Linked DNA regions of Homo sapiens: region 2 is linked to region 1. Evidence: fine-mapped expression QTL. A gene starts in region 1. The other region holds a variant in brackets. All regions are shown on one strand. Distances are from middle to middle. Region 1 holds the start of WDHD1 (WD repeat and HMG-box DNA binding protein 1). Region 2 overlaps MAPK1IP1L (mitogen-activated protein kinase 1 interacting protein 1 like).

What was found. PIP is the estimated chance that this variant, and not a neighbour inherited with it, causes the effect. A credible set is the group of variants that fine-mapping cannot tell apart.
Region 2: its variant is the best candidate, but not a certain one, in a credible set for the expression of WDHD1 in monocytes after LPS (Fairfax 2014, PIP 0.57).

Annotation. Positions count from the first base shown.
Region 1 is chr14:55,024,688-55,030,070 of GRCh38, forward strand. WDHD1 (WD repeat and HMG-box DNA binding protein 1) reads right to left here and starts at 2,412. Exons shown (of 26, transcript NM_007086.4): 1 at 2,341-2,412; 2 at 2,024-2,116. The coding sequence starts at 2,100. SOCS4 (suppressor of cytokine signaling 4) reads left to right here and starts at 2,549. Exons shown (of 3, transcript NM_199421.2): 1 at 2,549-2,784. RefSeq lists enhancers at 2,234-2,761, 2,762-3,288 and a silencer at 2,390-2,439.
Region 2 is chr14:55,068,911-55,074,293 of GRCh38, forward strand. It overlaps MAPK1IP1L (mitogen-activated protein kinase 1 interacting protein 1 like), which reads left to right. Exons shown (of 4, transcript NM_144578.4): 4 at 1-1,284. Among named protein-coding and RNA genes, the nearest start is that of MAPK1IP1L, 20 kb to the left of the region's middle. RefSeq lists an enhancer at 3,304-3,423. The variant TA/T (reference allele first, on the strand shown) is at 2,770.

The DNA.
Region 1 (5,383 bases):
CCCGTGCTCTCTGAAACGTGTGCTGTGTCAACTCAGAGTTAAATGGATTAAGGGCGGTGCAAGATGTGCTTTGTTAAACAGATGCTTGAAGGCAGCATGCTCCTTAAGAGTCATCACCACTCCCTAATCTCAAGTACCCAGGGACACAAAAACTGCGGAAGGCCGCAGGGACCTCTGCCTAGGAAAGCCAGGTATTGTCCAAGGTTTCTCCCCATGTGATAGTCTGAAATATGGCCTCGTGGGAAGGGAAAGACCTGACCGTCCCGTAAAGGGTCTGTGCTGAGGAGGATTAGTAAAAGAGGAAGGAATGCCTCTTGCAGTTGAGACAAGAGGAAGGCATCTGTCTCCTGCCTGTCCCTGGGCAATGGAATGTCTCGGTATAAAACCCGATTGTATGCTCCATCTACTGAGATAGGGAAAAACCGCCTTAGGGCTGGAGGTGGGACCTGCGGGCAGCAATACTGCTTTGTAAAGCATTGAGATGTTTATGTGTATGCATATCTAAAAGCACAGCGCTTAATCCTTTACATTGTCTATGATGCAAAGACCTTTGTTCACGTGTTTGTCTGCTGACCCTCTCCCCACAATTGTCTTGTGACCCTGACACATCCCCCTCTTCGAGAAACACCCACAAATGATGAATAAATACTAAGGGAACTCAGAGGCTGGCGGGATCCTCCATATGCTGAACGCTGGTTCCCCGGGTCCCCTTATTTCTTTCTCTATACTTAGTCTCTGTGTCTTTTTCTTTCCTAAGTCTCTCGTTCCACCTTACGAGAAACACCCACAAGTGTGGAGGGGCAACCCGCCCCTACACAAACTAATACAGGTATCTTCTAACAGTCTTTCTGCATCCATGAGTGCTCCTTTTCCAATTCATCCTCCATGCATTTTCTCAAAAACAAACCTGATCACATCTCTCTGCTTCAAGCCTTTAATACCTTCTCAGTGCTTTTAGGATAAAACGAGATTCCTTAATAAAGTCCAGAAGGTCTTGGATAGGACATCCATTGCCTAACTTCACAGATTCATCTCTCACTAAACTCTGCATCACTCTCCACATTTTAGTAAGGCTAGTTTTCCTTCAGTTCTTTGAGCATACCATGATCCCTGGCCCCATTGGGCCTTTACACACAGTATTGCCTCTGCTTACTATGCCAACATCACCACCCCACCGCCACCACCACTCATCTCTTTATACTGCTTAATGCCTGCTCCGTCTTCAGATGGCGTCTCAAGAAACACTTGTCCAAAGAAGCCTTCCCTGACTCCTTTAACTAGATGAGCTTCTCCTCATACATGTTTATCACTGCACATATTACTTGTTTCTAAATACACATTTATTTTTGTGATTAATTTGTGTTCAATGCCTGTCAATCCAAAAAGACCTTAAGCTCAAAGGAGGAAAAGACTGTGTCTGGTTCGCTCTATTCTATCTGTAGTCCCCAGCAAAAGAGACACACAAGTATTTTTTCAATGAATCAATCAACATAGAAGCGACAGTGGAAGCCGTGCAATCGAGCAGTAGTGCGTAAGAATGGGACTTGGAAAGATAAAAGGGACCAGAATAACCGTAGGAAAATATTATAGTTTAGGAATCAGAGGAAAAAATTGTTTTAAGCCGTCAAAAAGTTAAAAAAAAATAAGCAAAAAGGGAAATAGCATCACTAAAGGCATGGAAGGATATCATTCCAAACAGAACAGGCCACTGAATTTGACAAGTAGGCAGTAACTAGTGATCTGACAAAATTAATAATGTAAGATGCAGGGAAGGGGAAAATATATGGAGAGAAGCTCGCATCTTTCCAACTCCTCTGGAAGTACGATTATAACTTTGTCGATATACTACAACTACCATGACGGCCCGAATCAAACAATAATCTAAAGAAATATGTGTGCCATTTTAGATTTCAACATTATTCCTCTATCCGCATGAGTCATTTTTAGCTGACTGCACATATAAAGTTTAAGGATAAATGTTTTAACATTTGCACCTAAAACGTTGTTTCTCAAAGAACCTTACCTCCCAGAATCATCAAAACAGACCTCCGTGTGTCCCTCTGTATGCCCATATCTCATTGGCTTCCGTGTGGCAGGCATGTTTTCCTTTACCTATCTGAAAATGTTTTATAAAAGCCAGTCTTATTATTTCAAAAGAGAAAAGCAGCGAGGCTAGGGATAGGAAGAGAGCTTAGTCTCCTCTAGGGCCCGTTCTCCGCAGCCCGGTTTCCCCCACCCGAGTGACACCAGCGGGATAAGGCAGAGGGTCTGTCAGACAATAAGCCGGAAAGGGAACACGCATCTCCTTGGTGGACGCGGGCAGCCGGAGTGGGGACTCACCCGGGTGACCGAGCCTCCGCCACTGAGGATCCACAAGAGCTGCTTCCCGCGCTTCGGCTCGCTCACCACACTGCGCCTGCGCCGACCCGCCCACGCCCAGCGCAGGTCCCGACAGAGGTCGCCGGGTGGTGGCGTCAGCTGCGGCGCCCTCCGCGTGGAAATTAGCCGGTTGCCCGGGCAAATCAGGGAGGAAGGGAGGGAGCTGAACACGGAAGTGGTGGCGGCGCCCAGGGAACCGGCGGAGGCGATGACCGTGACGGCTGGGTTGGGACCGGAACGCCGAAGCGGGGTTGGGGGTGGCAGAAAAGCATCTGCTTTGTAAGACCTACACGAGGTGCAGGAGTGGTTGGGCCTCCCCTCTCCACTTAAGCAAGCGCCCAGACTGATGGCGATGGTGATGGCAGCAGTTACTCGCACAACCCCAGTTAAGCTGCGCTCCGGGAGGTGAGTGGGGGAAGGGTGGCCGCTGCCTGGCCTCGCAGGCCGGGGTCTTGTTCCTGCCCTCCAGGCTCTCCTCCCAGGAAACAATATCCGGATCCCTAAAAGGATCCGGTCTCTTTCTTGGGGCCCAGTTAGCAGACAGATCTTTGAGCATCTTCTCTGGAAAAGAAGGCGAGATCTTCTAGAGCCTCTAATCTTGGCATCCTTCGTGCCCTCACCTTGTCGCTTCTGTAGAGATAAAGAAGGAATGACTTAATTTCTGTTCCGGTTGGTTCTCTTGGTACCTGAAGGTATAATTAATTAATGCTCAATTAATGCTTATTCTTTGCGACTCTATATATCCGTTATGAAGAAAGTAACTTGTGTTCTCTATTCAGATCCCACCTAAAGTTTACTGAAGTGAATATTTATAACCAAAAGAAGAGTTATAACTTAGTAGCCTTGAGCACTTACATTTGATCCATGCAATATCTGCTAAAGTCTTGGCCACTAAGTTTAAGTTTATGCTTTTCTTGTATCTTCATTCTCCATATTGGTACAGCAGCCTGTGATGAAAACCTTCAGAATGATATTCTTTCATTTGTACTTATCTTTGAGAATTTTTCTGCGTTTTTGTGATACCTTCCAGTATCAATCACATTTATTTTATTACCTGAGACGTTTTTCTGTTGAAGAGGTTTCCCTATTGTTTTTTTCAATCTAGTTCCATTGTGAAAAGTTGCAAACACACAGGCAAACCGTCGTGTTCTTACCGTGGGTGGCATTGTGTGAGGCGTTGTTTTTAGTACTAGAGCTCCAGATAGCCTTGCTAGACGCTGAGGTTTGTATATGAATGAAGAGGAAGAATGATTGGCTTAAAAACAACTTGGGATTTGTGGAAAAATAACCCACTGTTGATCTCCCGAAAGAGCAGTGGTACCAGAGATGATGCTTTCTGAGTGACCTAATTTTTTTTTTTTGGAGATCATTTGTTTTTTGGATAGACTGGCTTATAAATTTTTTCGTTCAAGTAACAATATCATTGGCTAGAGTACATAGAGTTCAAGATGAACTCTCATAATATTCGTCTCTATGTTGAATAAAGCGTGGTGAGATTTCTGGTTAGTACTATTCAGAGCTCAGCATAAGAAGAATCTGCAAATTGGAACAAGTTATAGCTACAAAATGCCTTCACTATAATATCTGTAATACCCATGAGACTATGATTGATGTCCACACATCTGTCATTTTCTCTTATCAATCAAGCCATTTGATTCATAGGTTAAAGAACAATTTTCTTTGCAGATTTTGCATGTATGGTAAAAGCTTGAGCCTCCGAGTTTAACAGTCCTGGGTTTTAATTCTAACTGACACATTGTGTGACCTTGAATATGTTCCTTTACTGAAAATCGAATTCCTCATCTCTAAAATGGAGATGACACCTACCTCCGTCGCATTGTTAGAGTATATAGGAGATACTCATGGATGTATAAAAGTAATTGTTATTAATATCTCATGTTACTAAAGGGGTGCTTTGGGTGGGTATTTAGTGTTTTTTGTTTAAAGTGGGATTTGTTTAAATAATTATCCAGTAAATTTTTCAAATATTAAAAAATGTATTCTTGTTTTTGCTAGTATCATGTTTTCACAATTCCATTTGTTTCAGTCAAATGGCTACAAATTGTAATACCTTCAGTGAGTTTATGGTCTTGCTGAGGGAAATAGACATTCAAACAATATGATCAAGATGATAGTGCAGTAATGAAAGATGTGTAACTTAAATATTAGCAAAATTGTCTAGTTAGTTAAAATAACATAGTTTTTTAAAAAGAAATCAGTGTAGCTGTGTCACTGATAGGAGTATCAAAAATTTTCCAAATGTAGTTATTTGTCATTAACAGTGCTTATCTCATAGGTGTGGGTGGCTAAATGAACTGACTGAAAATGATGCCAAAGTCACAGATTGAATTGCAGTGATGGTTAGTTAGCTTTGCTGTGTTGTAACCACTCATACTACCCTTAGACTCACAAATATTTTTGCTCCCAAGGACAATTGGGTGAGAAAACATGGGTACATTGCCATTCTACCAATGATGGTATTACCTATATAAAATCATGTGATCTTACAGGATTTATCTAAGAGGATATATCAGTATTGGCTTATGGAAGGAGTTTAAAAAATTATTTTCTAGTAAAATATGTACTTGGTGTAAAAATGATTAATCTTGTGAAAGGTAAGGCTAGAAGAGTGTAACAATAGCCAAGGAGACCAAAGTATTGAAAAAAGAAACATTGAAGGCACTTTAGAAATGTGAAGATTTTTATATTTCCAAATGTGTCCTGAAACTTACTAGCCTATTTAATAATTTTGGGGTAAATAGTACTTGTCTGTATGTATACTTAATATGATATAAAAGGCAATACAGTAAAAGTCGTCCTCCTACTCATACTCCCAGCCATCCAGTTCCCCTGGCTAAAGACAGCCAGTATTTGATTCTTGTATTACATTAACACTAGATCCTTACTACAGCAAGATGAGATAATCAGTGTTATATAGATAGAAAAACAGAAAAGTTGTGATTTATCTAGTCTTTATCTAGTCACACACCTGCGAAATGTCAGA
Region 2 (5,383 bases), 44 kb after region 1:
TACCCATTCATTATTAGTTTTACCTAAACGTGTTAGGATCACTACTGGTGGAAATTGTAACCAGCCTTTGGGCATCTTAAAGGGTGACATGTGGCATGCCTTTTTTTTTTTTTAAGAATTTAATGTTTTTCAAGATTGTAGTGTTGATCAGCGCAACAATTCAAGTGTGCAAAGTAACAGGATAGTTTGCCTCTTCACTTTACCCCTGGATAAAGGCACTTTCACTGCCTGTCACTGATCAGCAGATACTGACTTGTTGCCATTAAGTGAACTTGACTTCTTATGTGTGCTCTATGAGTTTGTTGTAATTTTCTTCTTGAAATTGTGATTTTTCACTGACAGTAATGACAAATTTAATGTATGTAATTGTCTATGCATTTTAAGTTAAACTGCCTAAAATGTGATTTGAGACATATACATATGTTTGTATTATAAATTGTAAGCAATCAGTTTGAGATACTAGGTTTTATCACCTGCTGCTGTATTTGTAAACAAAGACAAATGTTGCTTTAAGAAGTAATTATAATTAGGAATAGGCTATGGATGTGATACTTGGTATTTTTTAAGATAAACTTGTTTGCTTTTGTGTATTATACCTGGAAACTTTTTTTAAAAAATGTATTTTCATGGTTTCACAGATTTTTCATGTTATTTTATTCTTTAGGCCCAATTCTGGGCTTCTCTGAGCAAGTCCAGAGCCTAATTAACTGTAAATTTGTTGTCAAAAAGGAAGAAAAAAGGGCCTGAGATACCTCTTTGCATGTGACCTGCATTCACTAAGGATATCTGGAAACCACCCTTCCTCCGCAAACCCTCTCAGCAACATGGTGTCCATTGTGGTGATTTTCTCTTCTTTTAAGGCTAGGCTACTCTTGGTAACCAGATTATCCGTATATATGATAATATGAAGTCAGGGAACTTTCTCTGTCTGTCCCTACTCCCCTCACTCCCCCACTTTCTGTTATGAAAGATAGTTCTACTTTTATCATTAACTGCTACGCATTTAGTGAGGGTCACATTATTAAACTTGGAGTTTACCATTTTCCCACAGGAGATTTCGCTGGCATTCCTTGGAACTCCCAATTTCAGTAGGGCAATGAATGAATGAATACTTTGCAGTGCTACTTTTGGAAGGAATTTCTGCTTTTTGCCTTATGATTGGACAAAATGCAGCTGTAAAATTTTAAATTGTTTTTGATATGTTATTCAATATCCCATGAAAGTATTCACCTAAAGTGGAGTTATGAAATGGATGGTGAAATAATAAGACCATTCTGGAGCAGGGCCAGTTTCTTTTTTTCCTGTTGTGAGATGACATTGCTCTGACAAACATGCTATCGTGGGTTACCTGACCCAGGCAAGTCCTTTTTTATCACCGTATTAATACTCTTAGCACCAATCCTTTTGCAACTGATCTCCAAAGCAAAATAGAATTCTAAATCTTAGCTCACTTATTTTAAATAAGGCATGCAATAGAATTCGAGTGCCAGGAGAGGATTTGGGTCATCTCATAGAGCTTATTCCTGTGGCTTTTACTTATTTTTGGGACAGTCTCACTCTGTCGCCCAGGCTGGAGTGCAGTGATGCAATCTCTGCTCACTGCAACCTCCGCCTCCCGAGTTCAAGCGATTCTCCTGCCTCAGCCTCCCAAGTGGTTGGAATTACAGGTGCACACCACCAGTCCTAGCTAGTTTTTGTATTTTTACTAGAAATGGGGTTTTGCCATGTTGACCAGGCTGGTCTCAAACTCCTGACCTCAGGTGATTCGCCTGCCTCAGCCTCCCAAAGTGCTGGGATTACAGGCTTGAGCCACCATGCCTGGCCCTCGTGGCACTTAAACTTTTTTCTCTCATTTGGGAAAATTGATTTTCCCAGTGCTGAGGAGAGGACCAAGTAGAGCTTATAACGCTTAGTCTCTCCCTGCTTTCCCTAGAGCAGTTCCACTCTGCACTTCGTGTATTTTCCTTACTGATAAGTTGCTTCAGGAAGGGGACAGATTTGCTGCTTTTAAATTTTAAAAAACTACCATTATAAATGACCATGTCTGCTACTTGAGGTTTATTTAGATCATAGTCAGAGGTTCCCAAGTGTAATAGAATTGGGTCATATGGGATTCTAAGCCATACTTAGTTTTACGTAAGAAAAGAGGAAATAGAACATTTTAAGTTTTGCTCTGATTATGTTTTATGTCAGAGCTTGTCGTTTTATTTAATGGTCATATAGTCTAGCTTTCCTTAAAGATACGTAGATTTAAAAGCCACTTTAGAGATAAGGAAACCAAGTTTAAAAGAGATACGCAGTGACTCATGCCTGTGTAATCCCAACACTTTGAAAGGCCAGGGCAGGAGGATCATTTGAAGCCAGGAGTTTGAGACCAGCCTGGACAACATAGCAAGACCCCATCTCCACAAGCCAAAATTGAAGAATTAGCCAGGTGTGGTGGCATGTGCCTCTAGTCCCAGCTACTCAGGAGGCCAAGGTGGCAGGATCACTTGAGCCCCGGAGTTAGAGGCTACACTGCACTCCAGCCTGGACGACAGAGCAAGATCCTGTTTAGAGGTTAAATTCCCAGAGTCATACCACATAAATAATGAACCAGTGCTTCTGTTATCAAGGCTTAGAGTTTATCCACTAGGTTCTATTTTTTTTGTTCAGGCATCTAGTACTGCAGTTCTTCCAAAACTATCTGGACAATCAAATCTATCTAAATTGAATGTTATGTAGCAGACCTCTCACACTTCATTTAGTGAGTTTCATCGGATATTCAGT[TA/T]AAAAAAAAAAAAAAAGCTAATGGTTATGTTTGAAATGCATGGTTTTGTGAATAATCACAGTTCTTCAAGTGCTAACCTAGAACTTGAGTTGTGTTTTCATAAAGGCAAATGTTCAAAGGTATAGCAGTTAAGAGTGGGTTTAAAATGTGAATGAGAGAATTAAGGTAGTGGATGATCAAACCACTAGTTCCAGGTCCAGCCTTTGCAGTTACCAGTCATTGGAGACATGGATATCCAGCTACCCTGCAGTGGCACACACTAGGCCAAGGCTGTCAGAGCAGCTGAGACAGAAGAGGTCTCTGTTAGCAGTGGATGGGCAGCCAAGATGTACAGGAACTGCACAGAGTGTGGAAGAGTCAGAGTGAGGTTCTGCCAAGCACGGCATGACAGTTCTTTTTTTAAACGTGCCAATGCAGGACATGCTAAGTTAAAATATCTTAACTGTTGCTTAGTTACTGCAACACACAAAAACCCCAAGTACTAAGCTTAATGAATCACCTGCGTCCTTTCTTGAATGCTCAAATCTACAAAAAGACTAAACTGCATGACTAACGATTAGGACTCTTACTTGGGCTTTTTATAGAAGTGGAATGAAGAGGACTTGTGCGAACTAGGAAAAGCAGCTTCCCAGCATAAGATTTCTCGTCTGAAAGGGGTAATAAGTCTCCACCTTCGATGCCTCTGTGATCAAATTCTAAAGGGCAGCCCTTCATGGTTCAGCGAGCAACACAATTGCTGGGGATTCACAGGGCAGAGTTGGTATTTTTATTTTTTACTTTTCTTTTTAAATCAGTGTTGGGTCACGAATTTGTTTTTTAGGGTTTTTATTTTAAGCTTTGAGCTCAGCTCTGGTGTGTGATTTACGGCAACTGATTAGCTTCCTGTGCTCACTTCCCTTACCTATAAACATAATAATGCTCAAAGTACCATGAGGGAAAAAACATTCTTCATTCCCTCTAGCTAGAGATCCACTAGGTATGTTAGCATACCCCAAACAATGCACATCTAATATAGTAGCTCTATATGAATATTCCTTTTTTAAAAATCAGATTATCACCCAGGCGTGGTGGCTCATGCCTATAATCCCAGCTACTTGGGAGGCTGAGGTGGGAGGATCACATGAGCCCAAGAAGCAGACGTAGCAGTGAGCCATGATGGCACCACGCCTGAGTGACAGAGTAAGACCCTGTCTCAAAAAAATAAAAATTAGGTGATCAACATTAAGGATTAAATGTTACACAATGTGATTAGCTCTTACCTCACATGCCGGGGGGAGCAGGGAGTACACAATGTGATCCTAATATTTATTAACCACCAACCTTGTGCTCTAAGCAAGTGGTTATATGTCCCAGTTGGATATATGGCCTGGAATCATTCTGGTTCCTGTTTGCCAGGTATAATTTTTTTTTTTTTTTTTTTTTTGAGACAGAGTTTTGCTTTTTCCCTCCAGGCTGAAATGCAATGGCATGATCTCGGCTCACTGCAACCTCCGCCTCCTGGGTTCAAGCGATTCTCCTGCCTCAGCCTCCCAAGTAGCTGGGATTACAAGTGCCCACCACCACACCCAGCTGGTTTTTGTATTTTTAGTAGAGACAGGGTTTCACCATGTTGGCCAGGCTGGTCTCGAACTCCTGACCTCAGGTGATCCACCCACCTTGGCCTCCCAAAGTGCTGGGACTACAGGCGTGAGCCACCACGCCCAGACTCCAGGTATAATTATTAAAGCACCTCCCTTGCATCCACAAAAGTGTCCTGGTGTTTGTGATAAGTCACATGGTTGTCCTAAATATAACAAAAAAAGAGTACCAGTGAAGATTTTATTTCCTCAGAGAAAAAACTTGTCCTAAAAAACATGTTTTACTGTAGAAGTTACCCCTTCATTCACATACAGTCGGCCGCTTGTATCTGTGGGTTCTGCATCTGGGGATTCAACCAACCTCAGGTGGAAAATATTTCGAAGGAAAACAACAATAAATAATACAAAATGTAAAATACAATATAGCAACTATGTGCTAGCATTTACATTGTATTAGGTATTCTAAGTAATCTAGATATGATTTAAAGTATAAGGGAGGATGTGCGTAGTTTACAGGCAAATACGACACCATTTAATATCAGCAACCCAAGCATCTGTGGATTTTGGTATCCCAGGAGGGTCCTGGAACCAATCCCCTGTGGATACTGAGAGATGACTATATTATTTAGGGTGCTACTCAGACTGCATCTTATAAAGGTGAAGAACCATATCCAAGTCACTGAATTGTAGCTACATTATCTTCAGTAAGTCCCAACGGCAAGAAGCAAGCACGTCCCAGTCTTGGAACAGGGAGTCATGTCTTCTAAGATAGAGGAGCTAGATAGAGAAAGAGGGTTGGAACAGGGCTTTCTACTTTTCTGGGCACCTCTCCAAAGGTTTCTGCCACATAGCCACAATTATGTCTTTTTCCCTCCCAAGTCAGAAAGCAATTTCCCTTAAAGCCCTAAGTTTTTCCCCCAACTTAATCCCCTTACAAACTGAGTAGTACCAAAAATTATGTCCATTTTATTGTATTTTAGAGATGGGGTCTTGCTATGTTTCCCAGGCTTGTCTTGAACTCCTGGGTTCAAGCAAT